Regions from separate parts of the Homo sapiens genome. Here region 2 is linked to region 1. The links come from fine-mapping of genetic effects on gene expression. A gene starts in region 1. The other region holds a variant in brackets. All regions are shown on one strand. Distances are between the middles of the regions.

Region 1 (5,377 bases):
GGATGTTACAATCTCATTGAAGATTATAATTCTGGAGTCAAATTAGCTGAAGACTTTCCTGCTTAAAAAGTTTTCCAGCATGTGATACATGCGTAAGTAGAGCTTTTTTAATTATTATTTTTTTTTTTGAGACGGAGTCTCGCTCTTTCACCCGGGCCAGACTGTAGTGGCGCTATCTCAGCTCACTGCAAGCTCCGCCTCCCGGGTTCACGCTATTCTCCTGCCTCAGCCTCTCGATTAGCTGAGACTACAGGCGTCCGCCACCGCGCCCGGCTAATTTTTTGTATTTTTAGTAGAGACGGGGTTTCACCGTGTTAGCCAGGATGGTCTCCATCTCCTGACCTCGTGATCTGCCCGCCTCGGCCTCCCAAAGTGCTGGGATTACAGGCGTGAGCCACTGCGCCCGGCCAAGTAGAGCTTTCTTCTATATACCTATTACTTTACTTTTTTCTTCTTTTTCATGTTCTTCACTACACATTTTGTGTGTGTTCCTAGGAAATCTTTTAAACTAAGTTTTATTTGATATGTATATTTAGTATCGATGTTCTAAGATACTATTGAATAAAATACATACTGCAGTAGCTTAGTTAAAATACTGGAACCGAGGCCAGGAGCGGTGTCTCATGCCTGTAATCCCAGCACTTTGGGAGGTAGAGGTGGGTGGATCACCTGAGGTCAGGAGTTCGAGACCAGCCTGACCAACATGATGAAACTCTGTCTCTACTAAAAATACAAAATTAGCCGGGCATGGTAGCACATTCCTGTAATCCCAGCTACTTGGGAGGCTGAGGCAGGAGAATCACTTGAACCCGGGAGGCGGAGGTTGCAGTGAGCCGAGACTGTGCCACTGCACTCCAGTCAGGGAAAAAGAGTGAAGCTGCATCTTGAAAATAAAATAAAATAAAAAACACTGGTACCGAAAAAAATAATAGTCACAAATGGCATTACTTTGTGCCTTTTACAAACAAATAATACTTTGAGGGCCAATTGTATACCATTATCATCTAAAGTCTGTCTCATTTTCTTTGCTTTAATGAAATCATGATAATCTATTATTTTCTACTCAAGGTTAACAGAAACTGGCTTGTTACTTAATATTTCTTTGACTTCTTTTGTCCATTAAAAAAGGGGGGTGTTTTTAAGATTAGTGGGTGAAAGTTGATGTATAAATAAGAGTAGACACAGCTTTAGGTAAAATGACGAAACAGGTTAAGTTTGGCTTCCTCTTTTTGTTTCAGTTCAGGCCCATGCACCTAGCACAATACTTAGCGCATTGTAGGTGCTCATTATATACTGCTTAAATGAGTGATAAGTTCCCTGAGACATTTATTTCCTGCACTTGTTAGGGTTCAGTGAGCCGATATCCGGCCACTGCCCTCCAGCCTGGGCGACAGAGCGAGAATCTGTCTCAAAAAAAAAAAGATAAAAAATAAAAATAAAAGACTACCTGCCAGAGGAAGTGGGCAATCTTCGCCTAAAGATATGAACTGCTAATGGTTAAACATCAGACGTCAGAGAAGACATATTTTAAAGTGGGGAATTTTCCCCAAGAGCACCCTCTAAACCACATCAGTGGGCAACTTAACGCACTTTGCTTGTCATTGGGTTAGATGGGAGTTTGAGGAATTGGGAGTAACATTTGGTATATAGGCTTGGGACATAATATCCTGAATTATTTCTATTTCATAATTCCTGTGCAAAAAATTATGGGAGTTGTTGATTCTACAGCAATTCCTGTCAATTTGTAGATTATCTGCTTATTAATAGTTTGTATTGTTTGGCAGAACTTGAAAACTACCGAACGATTACAGTTCAGGCTTTTTCCCAGTACCTCTGGCGTTGCTGTCTCAGTGACTAGGAGGTGAGGAGGGTGGCCCTTGAAATGCCAAACTGCCTACCGCAGCAGTCTGCCAGCAGCGTGCTGGGCCCAGAGCCGGGGATGCAGCCAAAACATCCTGGATTTTACCTACAGCTCCCACCCTCTGGAGGGACTGGTCTATTAGGGCATATGACACTGACAGTGCGCACTGTATACAAACCGTGTTTGAACAGGAGTCGGTTGGAAAATACACCACTGCACTGAATTACTTCTGCAGTGGCTTTGCAAAGCTCTTTTTGTTTCTTGAAAGAAGCCGACGGTAACCATTACAATATGGCTTTTTCCAGGTCCCAGAGGAAGGCTAGGGGTGCCTTGTGGGTAACCCTTTCTCCCTCTCCTGACTCCTTCCCGTTATTTCTTCTATCTTCATCCTCTAGACCTACACAATGGGACAGGTTGACAGTCTGTGTTGAATGGAAGAGGCGGACGATGCGCTTGTGTTTGGTGCTTCTCAAACGGTGCTCGCACTCCCCAGGGTCTGACGCAGCCCACTACGCAGAGCCCTGGGAGGAGGTGCGGACCCAGGGTACGACCCCCGACCGCTGAGAAACCCAGACCGGGCCCCGGCTGCAGCCCCGCGGGTCGGCCCGCCCCCCTGCCTTCCCTATTGGCTCGGCAGTTCCACGCGTCACGCCTGCGACGCCGGCGCTGCCCTCCCAGAGGAGGCGGGGCTTACACGCGCGAGGCGGAGCCAAGGGCGCACGCGCAGACGAGCGGGTCTGGGTCCGGACGAGGGGAGGGAGGGGGTGGTGTTCTCGGTTTCCTGGGTTACCTGGGCGGGCGGGGGTGGGGAGTGCGCGGCGGCGGCGGCAGCGGCGTCGGCTCGGGGTTCTCCGGGAGAGGGGGAGTGCGCGGCGGCCGCAGCTGCCACAAACCAGGTAAAGGCGGCCGCCGGGCGCCGACGCTGCCGGCAGAAGGTTCCGGGTCCCGGCCCCTCTGCGTGGCCTGGAGGGGAGGCGGTTTGGGGCTGGTGGCTGTCAGCCTGGGTTGAGGGCCGGGACCGCCGGGCTGAGGGCGCGAGGGCGCGAGGGCACTCGGCCTGACGCGCCAGCTCGGGGCGTCCTCTCTGGCTTCTGGGCTCTGGGACTTCTCGCGGCGCCGGGCCGCCTTTGACAGCCGCCGGGCCGCGGGCGGGAGCTCGGCTGGGCCCCTCTGGGCCATTGCAGCGGCCACTGGGCACTAACTTTATTTCGCAGCGCGCGGGGGGCGAGGTCGAGCAGGCTGACGGCGGTGTGTTGCTACCTTTATTTTATTTTTTGATCCTGTGCCGCTGCACTACTCAGCCCAGCTGGGCCCAAGCTGTCAGGTTGACGATGGGAGTTGACGGTTTCCGCGCCACCACCCAGCCGGTCACTCCCCGCGCTGTTGCCCTGCGGCGCTCGCCCACCTGTCACCTACACCGTGCGCCTCGGTCCGCTCTTTCCTCCTGTCCGTGACACCCTTTGACTGGGCGAGAGCCTCTCTTTCCAGGGGATCCCCTGAGACATCTGCCGTCTGTCTCCGGTATCACTGGAGCCTGACTGAGATGCCCCTTCGCTTCTGATGAGTTAAATAAGCTGGGAAATTACCCGAGAAGACCCCGGTACCACAGTGTAAAGCCCAACGAAGGGGTTGTTTAATGGTCCAGGGGATACAGAGGCTTTAAGAAACGTTTCCTTAACGCTAATTCTTATCTGGTTAAACAAAACATAGCAAAACATCCCCGATCCGCTCGGCAGACCATACACACCCAGCGACGGCACTTGATAGTTAATGGGGTTTGTTTTAAGCAGATAGAAAATTTTAAGGGAGTCGAATCTTGTGTTGAATGCGTTCGTGTTGAATTTGGGCCAGTGTTTCCTTGAAGATCAAATGCAGGTTGCATTTTCCTATTGTTTGTTTAACAGATTGATAGGACAAACTGAATTAGACTTTTCTTCCTGATGATTCTTGGCTCTTCTGCGCTATTATTTTAAAATTCCACGCCTAGATTCATCTATGCTAATAAAGATGTTGACTTTAAGCTTTCAATTTATAGATGTAGTTGATTAATATGGGGTATCTGTTTTAAAGAGCTTTGTTAAGTGGCCAACAACTCTTTTTCTGATAGCTCTTTGCTGTCATCCATATTGTTACTACAAAGATTGGAGAATTTGAAGAAGAGAGGGCATAAGGAAAAATGAATTGCTGTAATTTGCATAAAAATACTTCACAAACTATATAATTATATATATGTATTTAGTAAATATTTATTGAGCACCTACTGCGTGTCAGATACTTTTCTAAGAAAACATAAATATCTGCTCCTTCATGGAGCTTATATTCTAGTGGGGACCTCAGATAATAAACAAATAAAATATGTGCTGTGTCAGATGGTGTTAAGTACTACAGAGAAAAAGCACGGAAGAGGGAGGGCAGGGAAGAGGGAGGGCAGGGAACCGGGAGAGGTTTGCAATTTTAACTAGAGGCAGCCAGGGAAAGCTTCCTAGAAAAGATATCATTTGAGCCAAGACCAGAAGTAAGTGAGGGGTAATCCATGTACCTCTCTGAGGGAAGGATGTGCTAGCAGAGAGGAAGGCAGAAGGGCTTGCAGAAGCCCTGTGTGCTGGGCTTGTTTGAGGACAGCAGAGAGGCTGATTTGGCTGTGGTGGAAAAAGCAAAGAGGAGTAGAAATAAAGTCAAAGAGGTGAGTGTGGTGGGAGATTAGACTGTATAAGGCCTTGTAGGCCCTTTTAAGGACTTGAGTTTCTACTCTCAGTGGAAAGGGGAGTCCACTCTTTGAGTAAAGAACCTTACCTTTTATTTTTAGTTTTGAGTCAGGATCTCACTTTGTCTCCCAGGCTGGAGTGCAGTGGCATGATCACAACCTACTGCAGCCTCGACTTCCCAGGCTCAGGTGATCCTCTCACCTCAGCCTCTGAAGTAATTGGGACTTCAGGCACACATCACCCACCATGCTTGGCTAATTTTTTGTAAAGATGGGGTTTCGCCATTGTTGCCCAGGCTGGTCTCAAACTCCTGGGCTCAAGCGATCCATCCACCTTGGCGTGTCAACATTCTGCGATTGTAGGCGTGAGCCACTGCGCTCGGCCCCAGGCTTGCCTTTTAAAAATGATCATTCTGGGCGCTGGATGGAGAATAGACTTTGTTGTAGGGGAAGGGTTGAGCAGGAGCAGAAGCTGGGATACCAATCCGGAACTGTTGCCCTAATCCAGGCCAGAGATAATGTAGCTTGGACCAGAGTGGAATTGGTGGAGGTGGTGAGAGGTCATTGATTTCAGGATAAATTGAGGGTAGAGATGTAAAAGACACCAAAATTTAGTTCCGAACAAGTAGAAAGATGGGGTACTTGTTTACTGAGATTAGGTTTACGAGAGGAGTAGGTTTGGTGGGGAGAAGGGTGGGAGTTGGTTAGAAGACAATAAAATTAGACATTCACGTTTTTAAAGAAAAAAATATTCAATGATACTTGTTTAAGAATGGTAAGTAAGGCTTTATTCAGAACCATCTCAATAGGTA
Region 2 (5,377 bases), 66 kb before region 1:
CAGACTGAAAAAAAACAAAACAAAACCCTGAAATGGTGTGGAGGAGGGAGGGAGAAAAGAGAATTAAATATGCATATACCTCGCAAGCCCGCCACCCTCCTCCATATGGTGTCTATGTAGCAGGCGGTAAAAGACCACCCTGTTAGAGAAAGCGATAACGTAGAATGTGGTGGACAGATACTCAGGCACTTATTCTATATTGACCAAGAACCTATCATGGGCTGGTACTGCTCCTACTCTAAGAGCTGTGGTGATCTCAGTGAATTAAACAAACTCCTTGTTCACATAGAACATATATTTTAGTGAGTACTAACAGACAATGAACAAATATCATCCCCACACCCCCCCCACACACACACACAGACACCCATCAGGGAGCAGTAAGTGAAGGGGTATAGGAAGACAAGCAGGCAGGGAATACTTTGCACAGTCAGACGTAATAAACTAGGCTGGGTTCGGTGGCTCATGCCTGGAATCCCAGCAGTTTGGGAGGCTGAAGGGGAGGACTACTTGAGGCCAGGAATTTGAGACCAGCCCTGGGCAACATATCGAGACTCCATCTTTACAAAAAATAAAAAAACTAGCTGGGCATGGTGGTGCACACCTGCAGTCCCAGCTACTTGGTGGAGGCTAATGAGGGAGGGTTGTTGAGCCCAGGAAGTCTAGGCTGCAGTGAGCCATGGTGGCACCACTGCACTCCAGCCTGGGTGACAGAGTGAGACCCTGTCTCAAAAAAAAAAAAAAAAAAAGTCATAAACTAGATTTACAAACAGTATATGAATAGACTTTAAAAATATAGTCAATTGACCATTGATTAGCATTTATGATGCAAAGACAGAACAACTTTGTACAGAACTATATTCCTGGGTGGGGATTTCTGGTTGTAGCAGGATATTAAGCAAATAATAGAGAACCTTTTCACGCCACCTCTGGCTGAGCCACCCCACTCTGTTGAATGTATTAGAACTACCTTGATTTAAAAAAAAAAAATATATATATATATATATATACCCATTTCCAACTAACATACTGTTTCCTGAAAATAAAGCTCTACTCCACACACACACACACACACACACACACACACACACACACACACACACACAAAAGAAGAAGATGGCTTCTGGGAAAAGATGTTTTCTCCAGCAAGCTAAAAATTGGAATGACCAAAGAAAGCACCTTTCCAGCCTAACAGAGACCATTAGTGAGGCAGGCAAGAATCCAAAGTTGGAATCTACATCCATTGAATCTAAGGTCTCCTGTCTTTCTCAGTGTCCTTCAAATGACTTTCAAAATAAAGTCTTATTTTGGCAAAGGCAAAAAAAATACATAGTCAATTGAAAGAAGGGCATAGAATAAAATTAATGGCATCATATTACTTATGAAACTTAAAAACACGTATGCAAAATGCTGCTATACATAGTTCAGGTAAACACATGTCTAAGGACATGTATATCAACAAGTTAGCATGTAAACCTAACGGAAGTGAGAATGGAAGTTCGAAAGGGGAACGGGGAAAAAATAATGAATAAAACAAAAGAGGAGCTTTGTCTGCATGGATGATAGGGGGCCAGGAATTGAAGTGTAGGATTATTTAAGTGAAAGTAAAAAGAAAGATCCAAGAAACAATGGGGAAGGAAGGAGATTTTGCTGCCAAGAATGAGGAAATGAATCTACTTTTCCTTCCTCCCTGCATTTGGGACTAGGTCTGCCAGTGAGCCTCCAAGCTTCTCCCTCTGCCCCATGAGGCTGTCTCAGGGCAGCACAGCCTGCAAATCTGCCACTGCCAGGGGGCAGCAGGGGCAAGCATGGTGGCAAGAGGCAGTGGGCAGGCGTGAGGCAGCCTCTACCAGCCTGTGGCCACCTTCACTGGATCACACAGCTCTGGTTCCCAGTTCAGCTCCATTATCTACTGTATATGTGACCTTTGGGCAAGTTGCTTTATTCTCTGAAGCTGTTTCCCCATCTGTGAAATGCGACTAATAATATCATAACAGTAAGCCCTTCGCAGAGTGGTTGTAAGGATTCTGTGGGCCAGCGCATGTAAAGCCTCCATTGCAAGGCTGGAACTAGAGCCCATTCTTGGAAATTCTTAGTTATTAACATTCTTCTCTTTTTTGCTTTCCTGAAATGACTGCCAAACTCAACTTAGTCCCAGCACATCATTCTGCATGTTCAGAACATGCCTAAGCAAACTACAGGCAGGCTACTGGCAACCTCTGCCAAAGGATACCTGTGGCTTTCACTTTTTTTTTTTTTCTTTTTTCGAGATGGAGTCTGGCTCTGTCACCCAGGCTGGAATGCAGTGGTGCGATCTCACCTCACTGCAAACTCCGTCTCCCAAGTTCAAGCGATTCTCCTCCCTCAGCTCCCCAAGTAGCTGGTATTACAGGCCCCCACCATCACACTGGCTAATTTTTGAATTTTTAGTAGAGATGGGGTTTCACCATGTTGACCAGGCTGGTCTCGAACTCCTGACCTCAAGTGAGCCGCCCGCCTTGGCCTCCCAAAGTGCTGGGATTACAGGCATGAGCCACCGCACCTGGCCGGCTTTCACTTTTTAAACACACCACACCTGACTCTTCCTGATCAGCCCCCAGGATCAGGGGTTACAGAATGCTCTAGTACAAACCTCACCTGATCATGTTTCCATGCAAGAACAAGAGGAAACCCAACGCTATTCTGTGGATCTCTTCTCTGCAAAGCTATTGAAATGCTGGCGTTTATTTTTCAATGTGCTGTGCTCAGGACAGCTTCTTTTTTCTACACATTTGACATAGAATCACATAAGGAACGGAGTCAAAACCCCAGGGAGAAAGGGTGTGTGCTCACTCGTGTGTGTGTGATTGTGTGTACATGTGTGTGTTGCAGGTGATCTTATTCTAGGTGGTTGCTGAGTTTCCATCTCCAGATTTTCATGGCACCTTTAGCTCAACTCAGCCCAGGCCGAGTAGGTTTGCCA[A/G]TGTCTGTGCCTGATGTTGGCAGGATGGCTTTGGCAGGAATTGTGAGCACAGTTTTGAAACCTGTACTTATCAGATGGCACCGGATTGCAGTGTGGCAATAATTACAGGACAATTCAGAGTTTTGCCGGGACAAAGGGTGGAGCAACTCTTTGCGGTTGAGATTGCAGAGCAGCCAAAACTGCCCCACCTGCGGTGTGGTGGGGAATGAGGGAAGGACGGGCCCCCAGGAAGAGCAGGGCGCACAGCTGCAAGTGTCTACACTTGAATGCCTACCTCAAAAGCACAAGCAAACAAGGGTAACCCCTGGGGCTGTCCCCACGGAGATCTGCATAGGATGCTAAATTGTGAACCCCTTGCAATTAGGGACCATGCCTAATTCATCTTGTTCTCCCAGAAACTGGTAGTAGGGCCTGCCCAGAGTAGCTGTTCAATAAGTATTCATAAAATAAAATAAAAGCTTTCACATCTTTTTGCAATGCAGCCAGCTAAAATGAACACCAGATCTTAAGCACTCTTAAATGCCACCTTATTGGTTTCTTGTTTTGTGTGTGTGTATGTGTGTGTGTGTGTGTGTGTGTGTTTTAGACAAGAGTCTCACTCTGCTGCCCAGGCTGGAGTGCAGTGGTGCGATCTCAGCTCACTGCAACCTCCACCTCCCGGGTTCACGCCATTCTCCTGCCTCTGCCTCCTGAGTAGCTGGGACTACAGGCACCCACCACCACGCCCGGCTAATTTTTGTATTTTTAGTAGAGACAAGGTTTCACCATGTTGGCCAGGCTGGTCTGGAACTCCTAATCTCAGGTGATCCACCAAATGCTGGGATTACAGGCATGAGCCACTGCACCAGCCCCTTATTGGCTTCTGATCTCTTTCTTTTTTTTCCTTCCCTTTAGGATTGTAAACTGCAGTTTCCTCCCAGATGCTATTTACACACACGTTTTGCCAGCTTAGTACTGTGTCCCTGTTCGCATCGGTGTAGCACTCACACACCTGCAAAGTGCCTCTAACGATTCATTCTTCATCTCAGTCTTCAAAGCAAGGTCGTTGGGGCATCTCTAGTCTCCACTGCAGGCTGCAGGTGGGAGTTAGAGAGAGTGTGAGAAAGTTCAGTTGTCCAGGGAGAAGAGCGAAGGGACCCATCTCTCTCTTGCCACCTGGGGTTCAGTCTTTCTTCACCCGCTAAGTCAAACTCCCTGAAGCTTAACAAAACAAGAGTGATTTCTTCTGCTCTCTTTCGCATCTGGTCTTCTAGATCATTTTGTTCTTCCAAGTAGCTCCTGACAAGCTGCAATTCATTTTAGGCAGATACAAGTTGCATGAGCCCGAGGTGCTGAGTCTTGCGTCCCTGGCAAACTTTTCAAACTGAGTTTGACGTTGACGCCTTTCTTTAGAATGAGCACTTGTGTTTGCCACCTGAATCAAACATTATTATGAACATGTATTTACACACAGAATATTAATCTTAAAAATTCCTCCCAATGTTTTATCCAGTTTGGAGCCAAAGAAGTTCATTCTCTGTGTGTGTTTATTTCTCTCTCTTGATAAACCGCATTTATCAGAGGAAGTTTGTCTTTTTAGTCGTTGTCGTGCAAAAAATAGTAACCGAGTGACTATTCCTCTTATAAACTAAAAAAAAAAAAAATCCAAACACCTCCCCACCCGCCCCAACAAATGACTGAACGGACTGTCCTCTTGGTCAAGGGGATCCAAGCAAACCTGAAAAACTAGCTCAGGCCATGTGGGAAGGGAGGGTTGGACGTGCCCCATTTACCCTCCTCCCTTTGGAGTTTAGGCACAGCTGACCAGCATTAACATGCCATTAACGCTCTTAAGACTGATAAAACAGACTCTTTGTAACAATAAGATACCAAATTCCAACCTGACTCTGGTATAACATCACATGACAGATAGCAGGCCTTGAAGGAAATTGGTTTACACCCCCCACAAAAAACAAAAACAAAAAAAAACAACAACAACTATATATATGTGTGTGTGTGTGTGTGTGTGTGTGTGTGTGTGTGTGTGTTCTTTTTTTAGCAACCTTGGGCAAATTACGTAGCCCATGTCGCCCTGATGACCTCTGTAGAATCGTTGCGAGGATTAAATGACTCCATTTATGTAAAGCTCACAGAATAATGCCAGGGACTATGGTAATCACTCAGAAAAAAAAAATGCAAGCTGGTGGGGCATAGTGGCTCACGCCTGTAATCCCAGCTCTTTGGGAGGCCAAGGCAGGCGGATCACGAGGTCAAGAGATCGAGACCATCCTGGCCAACATGGTGAAATCCCATCTCTAATAAAAATAAAAAAATTAGCTGGGCATGGTGGCGTGCGTGCTCCTGTAGTCCAAGCTACTCGGGAGGCTGAGACAGGAGAATGGCTTGAACCTGGGAGGTGGAGGTTGCAGTGAGCCG

Which allele goes with the higher level. Positions count from the first base shown, and alleles are read on the strand shown. Sizes are in standard deviations (SD) of each study's normalised expression.
For the expression in unexposed skin of the gene that starts at base 2,694 in region 1, allele G in region 2 goes with a lower level than allele A (moderate effect, 0.45 SD a copy in GTEx).

What was found. PIP is the estimated chance that this variant, and not a neighbour inherited with it, causes the effect.
Region 2: its variant is fine-mapped to the expression of LYST in unexposed skin (GTEx, PIP 0.96).

The regions. Positions count from the first base shown.
Region 1 is chr1:235,864,223-235,869,599 of GRCh38, reverse strand. It overlaps LYST (lysosomal trafficking regulator), which reads left to right and starts at 2,694. Exons shown (of 53, transcript NM_000081.4): 1 at 2,694-2,757. RefSeq lists silencers at 2,227-2,526, 2,577-2,996 and enhancers at 3,117-3,216, 3,587-3,636.
Region 2 is chr1:235,930,059-235,935,435 of GRCh38, reverse strand. All of the region lies in intron 2 of LINC02768 (long intergenic non-protein coding RNA 2768), which reads left to right. All of the region lies in intron 2 of LOC105373215 (a long non-coding RNA gene), which reads right to left. Among named protein-coding and RNA genes, the nearest start is that of LINC02768, 40 kb to the left of the region's middle. The variant A/G (reference allele first, on the strand shown) is at 2,963.